Linked DNA regions of Homo sapiens. The protein of the gene in region 1 purifies or fractionates together with the protein of each later gene. This does not show direct contact. Each region holds a gene or a part of one and is shown on either strand. Other genes may lie near its edges. The genes, in order: CTNND2, NUDT12 and THUMPD3.

The links.
Region 2: the proteins of CTNND2 (region 1) and NUDT12 purify together in Homo sapiens (affinity purification with mass spectrometry; one large-scale study listed by BioGRID and IntAct). This does not show direct contact.
Region 3: the proteins of CTNND2 (region 1) and THUMPD3 purify together in Homo sapiens (affinity purification with mass spectrometry; one large-scale study listed by BioGRID and IntAct). This does not show direct contact.

What each region holds. Positions count from the first base shown.
Region 1 is NC_000005.10:11,894,416-11,898,077, forward strand, and holds part of CTNND2 (catenin delta-2), read right to left. Parts: intron 1-3,662. UniProt on the Homo sapiens protein: Has a critical role in neuronal development, particularly in the formation and/or maintenance of dendritic spines and synapses. Involved in the regulation of Wnt signaling.
Region 2 is NC_000005.10:103,550,556-103,552,934, reverse strand, and holds part of NUDT12 (NAD-capped RNA hydrolase NUDT12), read left to right. Parts: intron 1-518; coding exon 519-718; intron 719-1,963; coding exon 1,964-2,074; 3' UTR 2,075-2,379. UniProt on the Homo sapiens protein: mRNA decapping enzyme that specifically removes the nicotinamide adenine dinucleotide (NAD) cap from a subset of mRNAs by hydrolyzing the diphosphate linkage to produce nicotinamide mononucleotide (NMN) and 5' monophosphate mRNA.
Region 3 is NC_000003.12:9,366,008-9,369,669, forward strand, and holds part of THUMPD3 (tRNA (guanine(6)-N(2))-methyltransferase THUMP3), read left to right. Parts: intron 1-900; coding exon 901-978; intron 979-3,662. UniProt on the Homo sapiens protein: Catalytic subunit of the THUMPD3-TRM112 methyltransferase complex, that specifically mediates the S-adenosyl-L-methionine-dependent N(2)-methylation of guanosine nucleotide at position 6 (m2G6) in tRNAs.

The DNA.
Region 1 (3,662 bases):
TTCCTTTAGGCAATAGCCAATAGCATGAAATGTAGCAATATCTTTACAACCACTATGGAAGTGGGCATTTTATAAACACATTAGTAACAAAATTCAGAGATTTAGTTTTATAGGCAAGAAAATCTTTTGACTCTAACTCTTACCCCCCACCATTACTGTATTTTTGAAGTGCATCAAAAGTTCCAGAGAATATATTTTATACTTAAATGTTTATTATGATTAAGCTTCCCAAAGCATTTTCACCTAAATTATCACAGCACATTCAACAAAGCCCTGTGAGTTTTTATCCCAAGGAACAAATGACAAAATAGGCAAAGATGCAAAGTCACAAGAGAAGGCAAGTGCCAAGCACGATTTAGATCCCAGAACTTGGCATCCTAAGGCAGTGGTCCCTCCAGGGTGCTGCAGTGTCTGTACCCAAAACCAACCCAAAGCAAGCAAAGAAACCTTGGTTCAGAAACCATTTTTGCCCCAAATGATGAACTAAGTGTTTGTTACATGCCTACTACTATCCTATGATTTGTGGATCAATTATTTTAAAAGATAGATTACCAGTATGGGGTGGGGCTGGGGAGAAGCATGGTCCTATGTGACCAGAGAGAAGGAGTGTGTGCCTGAGAGCAGGGGGAGAAGGTAGAAAATCATGTGTTTGCCTAAAAACAGTGTCCTGGCTCTTCCCAACGAACTTGAACTTGAGAAATGAGACATCCCTGAAGAACACACAGTCAAGTGCCAGAACCACACACAAAGCACTGCACCTGTGAGCCCCGGACTGCCACAAACACCTTGCCTTTTCACACAGTGATCCTGGAGTCTGTGCAGGTGCGTTTATGCTTCATGTGGGAAAAGCAAACGCCAGAATTACAGAAAAGCATCTGGCATCTGTATTATTTCGCAGTAGAAACAGCTAATGTGTGTTGTAATAGTGAATATACCACATACTCTGCTATGTATTTTAAGTCCATGGTCTCTTAATTCACCGTCGCAACAACCTGAAGACACAGGAATTATTGTTTCCCCTGTGTTATGACACTTAGTAGTAAAATAACCGTTCACTTAGAAAATGATGAAGTTGGGATATGAACTCAGTCAGTTGGGGTACAACTTTGAAGCTATTTTCTCAACCATTTGCTCCACTGCTGTATTTACTACTGGGACACACGAAATCAGCAAGCAGTAAAATGTTTCCTTAAAGAAGAACTCCTGTAGGACAAGTGAGTAAGTTTAACTTCAAGCTTTAGAATTATGCTCCCAAAATAGGAACCAATAAAATGATATATAAACTGTTAAGACATGACAGAGTGACATAATTACTATAGACAAACAATATAAATCAATTTTAAAAAAGGAAAATAGATAAATTGAGAAATGTGTATAAGATATAAAAAGATAATTCACAAAAAAATTAGACGTAGACACCAACAAATTAGAAAATATTTAACCTCAGGAATATTAATAGAGAAGCAAATGAATTAGAGAAAAACACAATATTTCTCCTATGTAATTAGAAGTTTTATTTTTCTCATTACAACACCCAGTGTTGTTGAAATCATGGGAAAATTTGTACACTCCTGCCTTGCTGAGAGAAATATAAATTATATAATCTTCCTGGAAGACAAATGAACAACATATATCAACAACCTTGAAAACATCCAGTTCTAGGAAGTAATCTAGAGTAAATAACCTGATGACAACTATTTAGTTATTAGGATCTTAATTACAGCATTAAATATAACTACCAAAAATGAAAATGTCATCAATCTCCAATAACAGAGTGATGTAAGTAAATAATGTTATATAAAGGTATGGAAAACAGACACTAAAAATAAATACTAATTACATGAGATGTTAATAGGTAACTAAACAGAATATGAGCAATGTTTTCTAAATTTAAAAATGTGTATCGCTTGATATCTCTGCTAAAAATATGGTCATTTCTGGGGCTTGCAACCATGCATGAATTTTAACTTCTTTTAATCATTTCTGTATTTTTGAATTTTCAATGAGCATGCACTACTTTTGAAAACAAACAAATCTCAAATTTAAAGGCGAGAAAATGTAAGTATGGCTGATCAAAATCTGTGTAATCTACATTCCATGATGAATGACCTTTGTTAACTTTAAGTCATGCATTCAGCTAATTAATGAACTTCACCCCAAAATAAATATATACTATTCTTTTCAAGAATGGAAAGGCATGCTTTTCTTCTGCATAATGTAATATATATATTAAACTATGATATATTTAGTGGAAAAGTAATATATAAAGAACAAAACTCTTGAAACCCTGACATAAACACTGTGTTCTCAGTGTTCTCACATTTGGGAGTGGGTATGTGTGCTGGGTATCACATTCAATATAGTTATTTGCCTTGATTATCTTCTTAGCTTTAGTATTATGAATAGTTCTCATATAATTAGCTACTCTGAAACTATAATTCATAATTGCATATTTCTTTGGCTAGAGGTGCCATAATATATCTATGCACCTGCTATGAATTTAACATTACTCTTTTTCAACCTGAGTTAAGCAACACAAATAATCTGATCCAGATGCTACAAGCCCCAGCCTTCCTGCATCAACCTTCCATGTCCTGGGTTAATGAGACAATTTGTACTATCTCTGAGACTTTTTATATAACACCTGTCTGTCTTTCTGGAGGATTCTTCTTCCTTATTTGGTTTCCCCATGACCCCAAGAACAATGCTCCACACCAGTGAAGACTGTGTTAGAGATGAGAGATTGAACTGTGGCTCTTTTACATTTGGAGCTACCAAAGAGGTTGCTCTTTCTGGAAATTACATTATTGTATACTGTTGAAGGTAATGACTGCTATATTAGTCTAATATTTGAAAGTCCAAATAAAATATGTGACAGAGGATAAAATTTGTTTTAAAAAGTGAGCATTTTTAGATTGAGTAGTCATGCTTAGACTTAAATACAACATCGTATCTATTTAGAAAAGCAATGTTTATCTTCTTTCTTTACTGTGTCCATGATTTCTCCTATTAATTGCAAAACATCAAACAGCCACCAAAATCTAATTATTTATACTGAGGCAGAAAAAGCTGTGGAAAATAGCTAGCCTAGATCACTTATATATGGTTTGGGAAGTCAGATTTTAACATCATCTTTTTTATGTCTAATTCTCACCACTTACAAAGCGATCCAATTATTGGCAGTTAAAGAATAACATGAAAAATAGGGGAAGAACGCCAAGGGTAAGTTATTTTAAAGTTGGCTATACATAAATCTGCTGAATTTCATGGACCATAGTTGCTACAAATCAACCAGGGCATTAGACGCTACCTTGATAACTCTTGATGTAGTGTCAAAATACCATGAAATATTTAAAGAGCTCAACTACCAAGCAAAGTACTGTGAAAGCTACTATATCCAGAATTCTATCAACTAGAATTCTTCATAAACCATGCCAATGGGGAACACTTCTTCTCTATTCTGATATTTCCTTTCAGGCAAAGGGAACTTAATTAATGTAACACTGCTGGCCTCTCTCCAGCTTTTCACTTTCTCTGCCTCTGAAGAATAAAGAAGCAGCTTGCCTTGCTGCTTCTCTCTTCCTCTGGAGATCATCCTCCCTGCAGAGAGCAAGGCTTGGCTCTGCCAGCTCAGAAAAAGCTCTGTCCCTGTGGGGAGGGAG
Region 2 (2,379 bases), about 92 Mb from region 1:
AGGAAAATAATTGCTTAGAAAAAGTATTAAATTTCATCTTATGTAGTTTGTAATCTTGTAATGACCTGAAAAGAGTTACCTGCAATAATTGTTTGACAACATAATAAAAAAAAGTTTCAGAATTTTAGTGTGAAAGAGCTATTTGTAAAAATCATGTAATTTATAACTATTTCGTGGACAATATATACATGAGATAAGATATAAAGTGTTTGCATAGTGTTTAACCAGTATTAGGTATTGGATATTTTTAGATGGTATCATTATTTTTAAAATGTAACTGACAAATTTGTACCTTAAAAAAACGAAAAGTTTATTGTTGGCATTTTGATATTCTATATGTGGTCATGTACTTTAAAAAAATTGTTTTCTTCAATTACAGTCTAGTTTTAGGCTTCTGCTTTCTGATTATTTGCATTGGGTTTCTGTCCAAAGTGATTTCCAGATGTTTGAACCATTCAGGACACAAAGTGTCCCGGGCATGTTCATCAGCAACTTGTTCTTTTGCTCCATTTCATTAGGAGAGACAATAGAAGATGCTGTTAGGAGAGAAGTAGAAGAGGAAAGTGGAGTCAAAGTTGGCCATGTTCAGTATGTTGCTTGTCAACCATGGCCAATGCCTTCCTCCTTAATGATTGGTTGCTTAGCTCTAGCAGTGTCTACAGAAATTAAAGTTGACAAGAATGAAATAGAGGATGCCCGCTGGTTCACTAGAGAACAGGTAAAGTTCAATTTAATTTCCTTCTTCTATTGATTGTTCCCTGACTGTATTGGTTTGGTCACAGAGCAAGGATGCATATTTTCAGCAAGTTGAATGATGCCTTTGGCCCTCTCATTATGCATGGATTACATGGTAATTAGTAATTCCATACAGGAGGAGTATGTTTCACTAATGTGATCTATATTAACTTATTCTATGAGATTTTTCTAGTAGAGATGATTCTGTACCATTTCGAGTTTCAGATTCCATTCCTTCACATAAATAATAATACCTATCAGTGGGTTTAGAAAAACATTAATTCATAGATGAGAAACAGGAATATTCTTATACATTTTATATTTTAGTTTATAACATTAAAACAAGTAGCTCTCAAAAAACATCAGTAAGTGCTTAAAATTTTCAGAAAGTTTTTATTCATTTTAAAATGTACTTAAGGACAAGAATGACATAACTGTATAATAAACATACACTTAAAATAACTTTCTAAAATGTCATTCCTAAATAATATATTAAAAGATAAATTACTCATCTGACCTGAAATTCTTTCTGACTTTGCCTGCATAAAATTAATTTTATTCTATGCTTAATCCTAAAAGATGGAAATTAGATTATTGCTTATGAATTTTATAAAAAAGAATCTGTTTCAAAAGTTGGCTTTGCTTAGAAATTAAGTGTGGAGCGTACATTTTGCTTTTTCGTGATGTCATTTTCATAAGGGAATGTGTCTTTCTGGAACATTTTAGAAACTGAATCACTTACTCAGTGAAGCAATTAAAAATGCTGTCCTAAATTTTGCATGTTGAGGCGGGGCGTGGTGGCTTATACCTGTAATCCCAGAACTTTGGAAGGCCAAGGCAGGAAGCTTGATTGAGCCCAGGAGTTTGAGACTAGCCTGGGCAACATAGGGAGACCCTGTCTCTACAGATAATTTTTAAAAAGTTAGCCAGGTGCACCTATGGTACCAGCTACTTGGGAGGCTGTGGCAGGAGGATCGCCTGAGCCCAGGAAGTCAAAGCTGCAATGAGCCATGATCCCACCACTGCAACTCCAGTCTGGGTGGCAGAGTGCAAGACCTTGTTTCCAAAAAAAAAAAAACTTTGCATGTAAATATGGATGTTGTCACTTTCTACTGTTGTTATTCACTGTAAAACTCATCACATTTTAATTGAATTATGTAAACATGGGAATAGTATTTAAATATGACAGCTTTGAAATCCTAATGCATTCTATTATGGTGTGTTTTAGGTCCTGGATGTTCTGACCAAAGGGAAGCAGCAGGCATTCTTTGTGCCACCAAGCCGAGCTATTGCACATCAATTAATCAAACACTGGATTAGAATAAATCCTAATCTCTAAATCTAAGAACTAAGCTTTGAGTATTATTTAATAATTTCTAATAACACTCATTCCTCAAGTGATATTAGAGATTATTCAGTACTCTTGAGAGTGTCACAACACAAAATACGATGTTGGGTTTTCGAAATATTTTCAAAGTGTTCTGTCTTAATCACAAATTCATATTTTTACACATTTTTACAATATTGCCTCAGATTATGTTAAATTTGGGTCAGTCTTCTCTGAACTTTTTCTCTCTTGGTTTCTTTTCTTCCTTCACAGTTTTATCTCACAAAACCATTTTTCTAATAAGAGACATCATGTTG
Region 3 (3,662 bases), on another chromosome or scaffold:
TAGGATTGCTACATTTTTAGAGGTGATCTAGTATTTCTTGAGGATTGAATTCACCAGAAAGAATACTGTTCAACTTAAGAAATTCTCTAAGTATCTCAGTATTTATTTACTTCAGCATATAGCAGATGTTTAACCTTTGGTGATGAAACATAAAAGAGATTTTCCTTTTAATTTGCATCAAAAATTCTTGCTCAGAAGTAATTAGGACTCACTCAAGGTAAAAAGTGAAGGTCAGAAAACTGCAATCTCACTATCATAAAGCTGATATATCTCATTACCACATAAGCAGTGAGAGGGCAAGGATTGTTGTCTATTTTTTTTTCCACCAATATATCCCACGCTCTTAGTGTCTGGCATATAGTAGGTACCCAGAAAATATCTGTGGGATGAATTGGTAAGCAAATGTTTTCCATCCAATATTTTAGCCAATACCCTCAGCAGCTTTGTGAAGATAGGCACTATTATTATCCTCATTAATCATTAGGCTTAGGACACATAAATAATTTCCCCAGGGCCACTCAGCTAGTAATCACAGAACTGGAGCTCAAATCCCCTGCTTTTAACCATTGCAGCATACAGTGTACCCTAGAAAGTCATCGAGGAAATATGATACAGCCCACCTGAGTGGCTTCACCTTTCTCTTCTCCCACAAAAGACGTGTTGCCCACAAAACACTTCATGCTTCTCTCTTTCCATCTGCCCTTTTTCCCTTTCTCTAGGGGAAAGCTGATTAGTAACCAAAGAGATGAGAAACTAGGGAGATGGGACATTTTAAAAATACAAAATATAGTTAGTAGCTGCTTTAAAACTATCATTCCTAATTTTTTAAATACTTAATTGTTGATAGCTTGTGCTGTTCAAAAGCTTTCTCAGAAATGTGTTTCTTTTTTTTTCACCCAGGTTCATTGTCTGAGATCAGTTGATAACTTATTTGTGGTGGTTCAGGAGTTTCAAGATTACCAGTTCAAACAAACAAAGGTGAGCTATCCTAAACATGGTGGCTGATTTTTGGCTGTCTTCCACAAAGAGATTATTTCCATTTTTCATAGTCTGTGAAAGTTTAGCATTACTGTAGTCTTTGTAATAGAGAATACTGGGAGGCTTTTACAGTAAAATCTAGAGTTTTGCTGACAGTCTATCCCAAAAGATGTTTTTTGAAAATTAGTATTGAAAACCATTAAAGTTTATAAGAAAGAAGAAAACACCTTGTTTTACTTGTAAGAGATATAAACCTTAGATTTGCTTTGCTTTTACATATATTTAGTTCCAAAAGAGAATTGCTTCCAGAACATGAACCAAAGAACAAGTGACAGTTTGTGTCTTCTACAAATAACACTTCCTCACCATCCTGCTTTTGCTCTGCTTTCTTCTCTTTCTTCATTTTTTGAAATAAAGCCAAAATAACATCTAAATACTCCTTCAGTTGTTAGGACAACAGCTTTGTCTCCAATATGTATTTAGCATCTGAATCCTAAATATTCAGCTGCTGCCTAAGCTGAAGGTTGAAAATAGATTGCAGCAAGGCTTTAGGTTTTTTCCACACTGCTTTTTGGTTAGGTTTCTAGAGTTAACCGCTTAAAAACATTTTTCTATCAGTTTTACGTATCTTAGAAATAATCTTTTTAAAAACAACTGTGATACGCTACCTAATTGTCTAACTTTTATTTATTGGCAAGCATGTTGATTTCCAAAACGTTATTCAAAAACGAGTCAAAGTTGTATGAACCCTCAGCCTAGAAAACAATAAGACCAGACCTAAAAGAAGTCAGACTTAAGGGCCTGGCGTGGTGGCTCACACCTGTAATCCCAGCACTTTGGGAGGCCGAGGCGGGTGGATCATGAGGTCAGGAGATCGAGACCATCCTGGCTAACACGGTGAAACCCCGTCTCTACTAAAAATATAAAAAATTAGCCGGGCGTAGTGGTGGGCGCCTGTAGTCCCAGCTACTCAGGAGGCTGAGGCAGGAGAATGGCGTGAACCCGGGAGGCGGAGCTGGCAGTGAGCAGAGATCACACCACTGCACTCCAGCCTGGGCGACAGAGCGAGACTCCATCTCAAAAAAAAAAGTCAGACTGAAAATAGATAAAAATTGTATTAAGTAAAAATCTAACTTTTAGAAAAGCTTAAAGCAATTCTAATGAGTTCTCTTAAGTATTCAGATGATAATCATGAATTTATTAGTCCCCACCCCCCTCTTTTAAAAAATATTGAGATGGGGTCTCACTATGTTGCCCAGGCTGGTCTCAAACTTCTGGGCTCAAGTGATCCTCCCACTTAAGCCTCCCAAAGTGCTGGGATTACAGGTGTAAGCCATTGCACCTGGCCCCCATTCCCCACCTCCACCCGCGCATATTTTTTTTTTTTTTTTTTTTGAGACAGAGTCTTGCTCTGTTGCCTAGGCTGGAGTGCAGTGGCACAATCTCAGCCTACTGCAACCTCTGCCACCTGGGTTCAAGCGATTCTCCTGCCTCAGCCTCCCGAGTAGCTGGGACTATAGGCATATGCCACCATGCCCGGCTAATTTTTGTATTTTTAGTAGAGACGGGGTTTCAGCATCTTGGCCAGGCTGGTCTTGAACTCCTGACCTCGTGATCCACCTGTCTTGGCCTCTCAAAGTGCTGGGGTTACAGGCGTAAGCCACCGCGCCTGGCCTCCATCTGCCTTTTTAAAAGTATGAACAAATCTGTGATTTATATGGGTTTTTAAAGACTAGTTAATACATGTATTTGGAGCAAACTTGTAAAGACTGAATGGATATAGAGTGAAAAGTAAGTCTTTGTTCCTATATCCTCATGCTATGCAGCTCCCTCCCTGGAGGCAACAACTGTTAGCAATTTCTTGGGTATTATTCTGGAGATATTTTACGAATAAATGTATTTTATTTACACAAATGAAAGCATAGCATACATACTTTTCTGCGCTATGCTTTTTTTTCATATACAAGTTGAGTATCCCTTATCTGAAATACTCGGGACCAGAAATGTTTTGGATTTTTGTTTGTTTGTTTTTTGAAATATTCTGGGTTGGGCATGGTGGCTCACACCTGTAATCCCAGCACTTTGGGAAGCCAAAGCAGGTGAATCATGAGGTCAGGAGTTTGAGAGCAGCATGGCCAAGGTGGTGAAACACCATCTCTACTAAAAATACAAAAATTAGCCGGGTGCGGTGGCGGGCTTCTGTAATTCCAGCTACTCGGGAGGCTGAGGCAGGAGAATCACTTGAACCCGGGAGGCAGAAGTTGCAGTGAGCCGAGATCACGCCACTGCACTCTAGTCTGGGCAACAGAGCAAGACTCCGTCTCAAAAAAAAAAAAAAAAAAAAAAAAGAAAGAAATACTCTGAGGGTGGAACCTATGTATAAATAAATCCAAGATTCATTTGTTTCATATATACGTTATACGTATAGCTTGACGGTAATTTTATATGATTTTTAAAATAATTTATACATGAAACAAAGTTTGTGTACACTGAACCATCAGAAAGCAAAGGTGTCACTATCTCAGCTACCTGTGTGGCATCATGTTGGCACTTCAAAAAAATTTTAGGTTTTGGATTTTGGACTTTGAGATTAGGAATGTTCAACCTATATGTTGGAGATCCTGGCAGTATCATTGCTGGAATTGGCTGCGTATACTCCATTGTTTGGCTGTATAATAATTTAA